Regions from separate parts of the Homo sapiens genome. Here region 1 is linked to region 2. Evidence: fine-mapped expression QTL. A gene starts in region 2. The other region holds a variant in brackets. All regions are shown on one strand. Distances are from middle to middle.

Region 1 (4,404 bases), 20 kb before region 2:
AAGCTTCAGACTTCCAATTCTTCCACAGCCAGAATGTGATCTTTTATCTTGCAGGAATTGTGATAGTTAAGGTGAAAAATGCTGAATAGCTAAGTATATTCTCTTCATTCTTTGGATTTTATCGTAATTGTAGGAACATGCCCCTCACCGTCCTGTTCCCCCTGCCAATTTATTTTATTCTGAATGGAGTATGGAATTTGTATACTGCTATACCATGAAAACACAGTGTACAAAGAAAAGCCAAATACAGTTTTTATTTTTATATCTTGAGGACAGTTGAACTGATCTGCCTATTTCTAATTTTCACAGGTAATCCTTATAATATAATATCTAAGCAATTAATTTTACTAACTGTGAGAATAGAGGTCACAGTTTAGAAGAAATATGGTCTTAAGTGACTTTTAAAAAATTTGGCACACAAGTGAATGCCAGTTAAAAAATGGTGAAAATTGAATAAAGTCTGTAATCTACTTAACATACTATACTAATGTATAGTACTGATATTGTACTACAGCTGTGTAAGATGTCACCATTGTGGTAGCTAGGCAAAGAAGTCAGAGGACTGTACAACGGGCCTCTCCATTTTGCAGGACTTTTAATTCTCTAAGTATAAAATATGTCAAGAGACACCTGTGCGAAGAGACTTTTTTTTTCCATTGGGCATTATTTCCCACCTAGTCAGTATTCTACGGAAAAACAATTTGAAGTAATTTACGATGACATACATATACAACAGATTACTTTTAAAGTAAAGATTACAGAGCATTAAGAAATCATAGAAAGGAAAGGGGGATAATTTCCGCAGTAATCTGGTATCCATACTGCATTTGATATAAAGGATTAAATGAAGAGAAAACGCTTAGAGCTCTGCTGACATGCAGTGAGCACTCAATAAATACCTATTATGAGCTTTTATTATGGGTTATTTTGCCTTCATATGATAAAAAGAAGCAAATAGTTATTTGGGTGTTTGAAACAAAGACATTCCTGACCACAATGGCCTAAAAAGAACATATCACAGGACCCTTTATAAAAGGGGCTTTGATTAAATCTTGGACAAGATTTGGTAATTATTTCTTTAGTGTCTCCAAATTGATGTGGGCTAGGTAGAACTCAAGTTTACACCCGGGGAGAAGCATGAGAGGGTGGAGTTCTCTCTGTAGGGGTGAGTGTGTGTGCGTTTATTTTTATTGAGATAACATTCTTCTATTTCTTTAGTGGTGACTTTTTCATTCCTTTTATGCCACTTATTTTGAAATCAGAAGTATAGCCTATGGAGAATGCATATTTTTGGCAAATTGTTCTCTGCCCTGCTTGAAGATGGATTTGGCCATTGAGCTTTTTGAGATGACCACACTGGGAGTCCAGCAACCTGGGACCACAGTCACCGTTCGGCTACCAACCAACAAGGAAAAAAGGCCTAGGTAACAGCCAATAGACATTTGTGGGCTGTATCATATCTCTATGTCTTTTATAGCCAGGAGTGTAATACAATGTAGAATAATAATATTATTAACAATAATGACTATCATTTATCAAGTATTTATCATATGCCAAACCCTCAGCTAAGTAGTTCACATACATGATCTTATTTATTTTTATAGTCACTCTGTGTAGTGGGTATTATTTCCCTTTCTATTTTACAAATGTGGCGCTTGAGGTTCAGCAAGGTTAAGTAATTTGCCCAAAATCACACAGATAATAAGTAGCAGAGCCAGGATTAGAAGGAGGTCAACAGGGCTCCATGTACCACCTCAAAATTATATTAAAACCACAAGGAACAATGTATTTAC[T/C]GTCATCTTGTTTCCTAGAGAGCCTTTGCTTTCCAGGGTCTGATGGTATGTTTTATATCTGAGTGCTGCAGCAGTTTACAAAGTATTAAACTAAACCCTCAAGCTTATAGGCAGAGGAGCATGAGAGTAGGGCTGGGAGGTCTGTGCTGGCTGTTCACTCCCATCCCACAATCCAACAGTGTTGGTCTTGGAGTTAAACCAAAGTTCTAGAAGCTTCAGGGTGTGTTCCTAAGAACGAGTTGTGTGGCTGGTAGGGCCATTCTCTGAATTAGATAGAGGGCCTGATTACCTTAACCTTTAAGAAAACCTCTACTCAGTCCATGCGTGTTGAAAGTGTGGTGCCAGGGTGCCCTCCTATTTCAACATTAATTCTATTTGGGGCTATGCACATGCAAAGTGTAGAGGAGATAAGGCAGGTTGGGCACCTGTGTTCCTAACATTCAGAACATGTTGCCAGGGAAAAAGAAATATTTTTGGCTCATACAGAGTATTGGCTAAGAAGAGTACTTGAGAGTTTGTCATTACCTCATTTCCCCTAGTTTAGTTTGTGCTTTCAGAATTTAAGAACCGGGGTCCTTGATTTACCACTAAAAGTAGAGATGCTATCCAAAGACAGTGTTACCTTTTGTAGAGGCGCCAGGAGAAATCCAATGGCTAGAACGACAATCAGCACGATGATGGCACCAATAAGCCCAGCAATCTGTGAGGATAAAAAAATTATCATCACCAACTCAACTTTTCCCCTGGCTTGAATTTCCTAGTTACTAACGCTAGGACAGTGCTTGCAGCAAAGATCTTGACATACCTGTGTTTTGCCTCCTGTGCTCTCCTGAACTGCTGATCTGGAGAGGGCAGTACTCCCAGCAAATCCTCTGAATACTCCACAGACTATGTTACCCAGTCCCAAGGCTATTAACTCCTGACAGGAAGACAAGAATGAACCTTTTTCAGAAGTGGCACCATTGATATTATGTGTGCAAAATATTATTTAAAGTTGCCCAGTGAGACCCAGTGTAGTTTGTTTACTTACCTGATTGCCATCAAGTGGATAATCGTATTTGAGGGAATAGACGCTGGCAACTGAAAAGGCCACTGCAAATGCAACCATTGCGATGCCGAAGCAATCTCCTACGGTGTTTTGGAAAGTCTCCACGTCAGGTGTAATAGGGGGCTGAAATCTAAAATTGAAATTAAGCAAGTCTGAATGTCACCAACCAATTTATAAACTGATATAACCATTGGGCAAATCAATGAATGAATGCAATCTAGGCTGAGTTGTGTCTCACTTTGGAGTATGATTAACGAGAATTTAGCTCCACTAACAATTTTGCAATCTGCTTTCTTAATGCTGAAAAGCAACACTGCCTGAATTTGGTAAAAGACTGCAAATTCAATCCAAGGATAGTGGTAAATCAGATATGATTTTGCCAGTAAAACCACACTATAATGTGCGTGTGTATTCTTATAAGCTTCCTGCAAAATGTCTTCTATTCCACTTGTATTGTTACACTGGGCTGCAAAGCATCACTCAAAATGCTCCCAATAGTTATCCATACATGAAGTCCTTTGAGCAAACACAATTGTGAGACAAGGAAAGCAAAAAAGTCTTCTTTCCATTGATAATAATAACCTTTCATGGAAAACTCCTGGCAAAGAGATGGGCCTTGGACTCTGCCCTGCACTTCACAGAAATGCTAGAGACAACCATGACCCTAATGGAGAGTGGATTTCTCTTTAAGGTGATATATGTCAGAGAAACCTTCAACTCACAGGGCGTACTTCTGTGCTTAAGCCTCATGAATGTAGACCAGTTCAATTATATTTACTAATTGTATCATAAAAGGTGCATGTATCTTAAACTCAACATCAATTTACTAAAATGTTCCACTCCTATAAGCATATATTTCTGACATCAGACTTATTGGAAGTGGGTTAATTAGGTCCAATCAACTCTTTCTGAATTGCTGTTCCACATTTTGTGAATATCTATGGTAATACATTTTTATCTCTAATTTTGAAGAAGTACTATTATACCATAATTTTGAAGAAGTACTATTATATCTGATGCCATTATAAATCCAAAAGTTAGCTTGGAATGTTTTTGTTTTTTAATAACCAGGATCTTATTATTCTTTTGTTCTGGTCTCTGAACACCATAGACAGAATGATGTGATGAAGATTTACAGTCTAAAGACTTGGGTTCATTTCCTGGCTCTGCCACTTGCCCTTCCCAAGTCACAATTTCCTCATTTGTAGAGTGAGGATAATAAAACTTGTTCTCTGTTTTTTTGAGATGGGGTCTCCTCTTTCCCAGGCTGGAGTGCACAGCTCACTGCAACCTCCACTGTCCAGGCTCAAGAGATCTCCCCACCTCAGCCTCCCAAGTAGCTGGGACTACAGGTGTGTGCCACCACGCCCAGCTAATTTTAGTATTTTTAGTAGAGACAGGGTTTTGCCATGTTGGCCAGGATGGTCTCGAACTCCTGACCACAAGTGATTCACCCGCCTCGACCTCCCAACGTGCTGAGATTACAGACGTGAGCCATGGCGCCCGTCCTTGTTCTCTTTTCTTCACAGTTTAGTGGGAGGGTCAAATAATAAATGCAAATAC
Region 2 (4,404 bases):
CATGGAATCCCTAGATAGAGTTGATCATTTCCTTCTTGTAAGTACCTTGTATATATGTCTATTCCATGTCATACATTATTTGTTTATGTTTCTGTTCCCTTTAAGACTGAGTTTCCCAAGGGCAAGGCCCAAATCTTAACCATTTTTCCCTCTTTTGTTAGGTCCTATGACATAGTAAGTATACAAGAAAGTTTGTTGAAATAAACTGAACTATGAGCAAAAGATATATAAATGACGTAGACCTAAACTCCAAAGTTTACATACACAGGAGAAGTGCCCAAAATAATTGGTGCAGATAATAAATTGGAAGAAGGGATGTAAATGTGGGTTGGAGTTAGGAAGGTTTTGTGAAGGAACTGTGAGTCTTGTGTTAGACTTTAAAGAACAGATAGGTTTGGCAGGGGTGATGACAAAGCAGTGGGCAATAAGCAAATCATGTGAAAGGTTATTGAGAGTTCCAAACACTGAAACAGAAGGCTTTGTTGGCCCATAGGCTAAACCATTAGAGAAATGTTGGGATGCACCATAGCAAGGGATTTCACACCCAGTAGGCTCACAGCAGGCAAAAGAGAATCCCTGGCCATTTCTGTAAGGCTTTGAGATTTTCTGAGCACTTTCACTTTTCTTCCTTGAGTATTACTGTGGATGGAGGCAGACAAGATAGGCTGTATTGTCGCTAATTTACAGATGAAGAAATGGAGATGAGAGAAGATAAATGACTTTCTCAACTTCCCAGAGCCAGGATGAGAAGCCACATCTAGTGAATAACTGACTCTCTCCACTACGTCTTCTTCTCTGCTACATATTCAATGTCAGGGGTCTCAGCCCCTACCCCCAAGAGAGACAAGGTAAAAGAACAAGGTGAGGCACCATCAGGGTCCTTGCTTTTGAGCATGAAAGCCTCACACTCCTACACTCAATATCCACAACACAAAACATGAGCCTGGTGGCCTGGGGACAAATCTCCTTGAGGTGACTTGCTTTATTCTTCCCCTTGCTTCTCAACAAAGTGACACAGAGGCTAGAGGAGCCTCTTCTCTTCTCTTTGGAGAATCAAAGACCTTTATTGTAGAGAAGCACCAGACTGTGTTATTACATATTTATTCTTGTAATTGAAAAATATTCATTCTCATTTTCTGAACGATTTTGTTTCTTAGTCGAATATGAGCTGTTTAGGAGGTATTAAACATTTGTTCATTTCTTTATATACTTACTTATTCCCTTATCCAGAGGGAGAAGGCAAAGTATGTATTGTGTTACCCCATTTTTCTTGTTTCTGAAATCAAATTAGTTGCTTCCTAAATTTTCATTAGGAATAATCCTTGGCCGGATGGGGTGGCACATGCCTGTAATCCTAGCACTTTGGGAGACTGAGGTGGGAGGATCACCTGAGGTCAGGAGTTCGAGACCAGCCTGGCCAACATGGCGAAACCCCGTCTCTACTGAAAATACAAAAAAAAAAAAAAAAAAATGCCAGGCACAGTGGAGCGTGCCTGTAGTATCAGCTACTTGGGGGGCTGAGGCAGGATAATCACTTGAACCTGGGAGGCAGAGGTTGCAGTGAGCAGAGATTGTGCCACTGCACTCCAGCCTGGGCGACAGAGTGAGAATCCGTCTCAGAAAAAAAAAAAAAAAAAGGAATGATCTTTATGCAGTCAAATTTCATGACACAGTTTTTCCAAATGACTAACTTACTTCAGAAAAGAGAATTATTTAGTCCAATAATTTGATAAATTGTTCCTCACTTGCATATATAAAGAAAGTTGTATAATCTTTTCCTGACATTTTAAAGAATAAAATAGATTTTATCTTGATAGAGTTAGTAATGTATGGGATAAGTACCCATACATTACTAATGTATTATATTATATTATACTACTTGTGGCATAGGGCATTCTGCTACTTTCCAGTGACCATTTTCTCCCCATCTCTCTTCTCTTTCCAGTCTCTATCCTTCTTACTCTCATTGCCTTTTCTTCTCTCCGTGTTTCCCTTAGTCTTGGACTTTCTAGGATGTCTAGCAGATAAATCTCTCACTTCTAGACCATATGTCCCCTACCCCCTCCCTTTTTTTTTAAGAGACAAGGTCTTGCCATGTTGCCTAGGCTGACCTCAAACTCTTGGGCTAAGCTATCCTCCTGCTTTAGCCTCTTGAGTAGCTAGGACTATAGATACATATCCCTATGCCTGGCTGGGACCAGATGGCCTTTCTGAATCCTTTCTAGTAGGTGATTCTCTCTCCTGGAGAAACTCTTTCCTTAAAGCTTGCTTTTTTTTTTTTTTTTTTTGCCAACCCTCAGAGCAGACAATCTATCTATAAAGTCAGATTTGAGTGGAGAATTAAAGGAATTATCTGAATAATTAAAACAAGAACACTAATATCTTTGAAAAGGCTATTTAAGACTTAATGATGCCTACAACCATTTACTTGTTAAAGTCTACTTAAATATTTATTCTACATTGCTAGCGCTCCAGACATACATGCATATCTTATTAGTGGATTCATTCAAAATATTCACACACATGGAATAAACTCAAGAACATAATAACTCCTAAATAGGCTTTGATCAGAAAAAATACCATTTTCAAGGAACAGAAAACCAGTTTGAATATAACAATCATAAATTTGGTTCCTACCTGACACATACTCTGTGAGGAGCTTCTGCAACAGTGGTACATTTTCAAGATAAAGTTCTAAGTTCTAGTTCTAAGAGGCAGTGTCCATCCACTCAGGTCTACAGGCTCTGTGTGCATCCATATGCATAGGGATGTCTATATATAGGCTATGTAAGACAGTGGACAAATTACCTTTCTGTCAGCTTTAATAATTAACTCTCATTAACTTTTACAACAATGAAAAGACTGCAATGTGGTCTTGACCTTTGAGACTTTGATCAGCAGAAGTGATGATGAAGATTGCTTCCTCAAGTTCCTTGTGAGATTAAACCACCAGTGGGTGGTTTAATGCACTTGTGTGTACGTAATTTCATTGGTTTGCAGAGATTGCACAGCAGATGCTCACGTGTACTTAAAAAAAAAAAGAATCTTCTCAAGGGTTATCTCCTTGACATTTCACCAACCTGTTTAGATGAGAGTTTAGTGGTGGTGTTTTTTGGCTGGATGACTCCATGGAATCTGTCATGGGCTGCAGAAGTGTGGTGTATAGGTTAACTCCTGGTATGATAAAGGCCCTCATTAGGAACACTCACCCAACTCCCAGCCACAGGCCATATCTGCATTCCAATTTCTGCCCCCACCACAGCTCTTCCTAAGAGCAATAAACCCTATGTTGCTAAACACAATGAATACTTTCAACTCTCATCTTACTTAAAAGCATTTGGCATTGCTGACTACACTTTCATGAACTCCTCTTTTTATTTTAAAAATTATTTAACTAATTAGTTAATTTTAGAGATGGGGTATTGCTGTGTTGCCCGGGCTGGTCTCAAACTCCTGGCCTGAAGTGATCCTCCTGCTTTAACCTCCTGAGTAGCTGGGATTAGAGGCCTCAGCCATCATGCCGGGCTAAAATCTTCTCTTCTTGAAATGCTAAAAAAAAATTTTTAACACACTTGTTTTTCACCTCATCCTTTTTGCCAATTTCTCCTCTAACTCTTTCTTTGGCATTTCCTAAGATTCTGTTCTGAATTTCCTTCTCCTCTCTTGCTACCCTCTTACCCTAAATAAGAGTCCTATGGCTCCCAGCAACATTCAGATTTCTAACCCCAGCTCTCTAGGTCCACATATTTAACTGCCTATTCCACATCTTTGCTTGGATGCCTCATAGGCATCTCAAACACGACACATATCGAGATTAAGACCTCTTGATCTTTCCTCCCAAATCTGCTCCATCTCTAGTCTTCCCCATTTCAGTAAAGAATATTCCCCTTTACTCATGTCAGAGACCTGGGAACCATCTCTGACACTTCTTCTTGCAGACCTTCTCCCCACCCGCAGCCAATCCATCCTTAAACCCTATTGAGCATGCCTCCAAAATACATCCCAAAGCCATCACTTTTCTTCATCTTCACTCTTACCTTTGCTGCACTTCTTGCTTCCTCTCGCAGCCCTCCCCATCTCTTTACCACTCATTAATCAGAATGATCTTTTCACACTAGTCCTCTTTGTGGGGCTGATGATTACACAGAGGGAAAACAGGCCTCCAAAGTCTTTGCATGATCTCCCCCTGCACAACTCTCCAACCTCATCTGACTCTGCTCTTACTTTTGTTTTCTCCACTCCCACCATGGTGGCCTCCTGTAGTCCCAAATTTGCCCACTCTTTGCAGACATCATTTTCTCTGCTTAAATGCACTTCTCTCTCTCTCTCGGTTTGGCTGTTACTTAGCTTCAACATCACTTTCTCAAGGAGAACCACTTTGACTTCCTAATCTCAATTAGCCCC

Which allele goes with the higher level. Alleles are on the strand shown, and positions count from the first base shown. SD is a standard deviation of normalised expression in the study named.
As copies of C replace T in region 1, the expression in testis of the gene that starts at base 2,750 in region 2 goes up (large effect, 1.6 SD a copy in GTEx).

What was found.
Region 1: its variant is fine-mapped to the expression of SLC26A3 in testis (GTEx, PIP above 0.99).

What each region holds. Positions count from the first base shown.
Region 1 is chr7:107,780,382-107,784,785 of GRCh38, forward strand. It overlaps SLC26A3 (solute carrier family 26 member 3), which reads right to left. Exons shown (of 21, transcript NM_000111.3): 9 at 2,824-2,971; 10 at 2,599-2,712; 11 at 2,416-2,493. Among named protein-coding and RNA genes, the nearest start is that of SLC26A3, 21 kb to the right of the region's middle. The variant T/C (reference allele first, on the strand shown) is at 1,794.
Region 2 is chr7:107,800,474-107,804,877 of GRCh38, forward strand. SLC26A3 (solute carrier family 26 member 3) reads right to left here and starts at 2,750. Exons shown (of 21, transcript NM_000111.3): 1 at 2,638-2,750.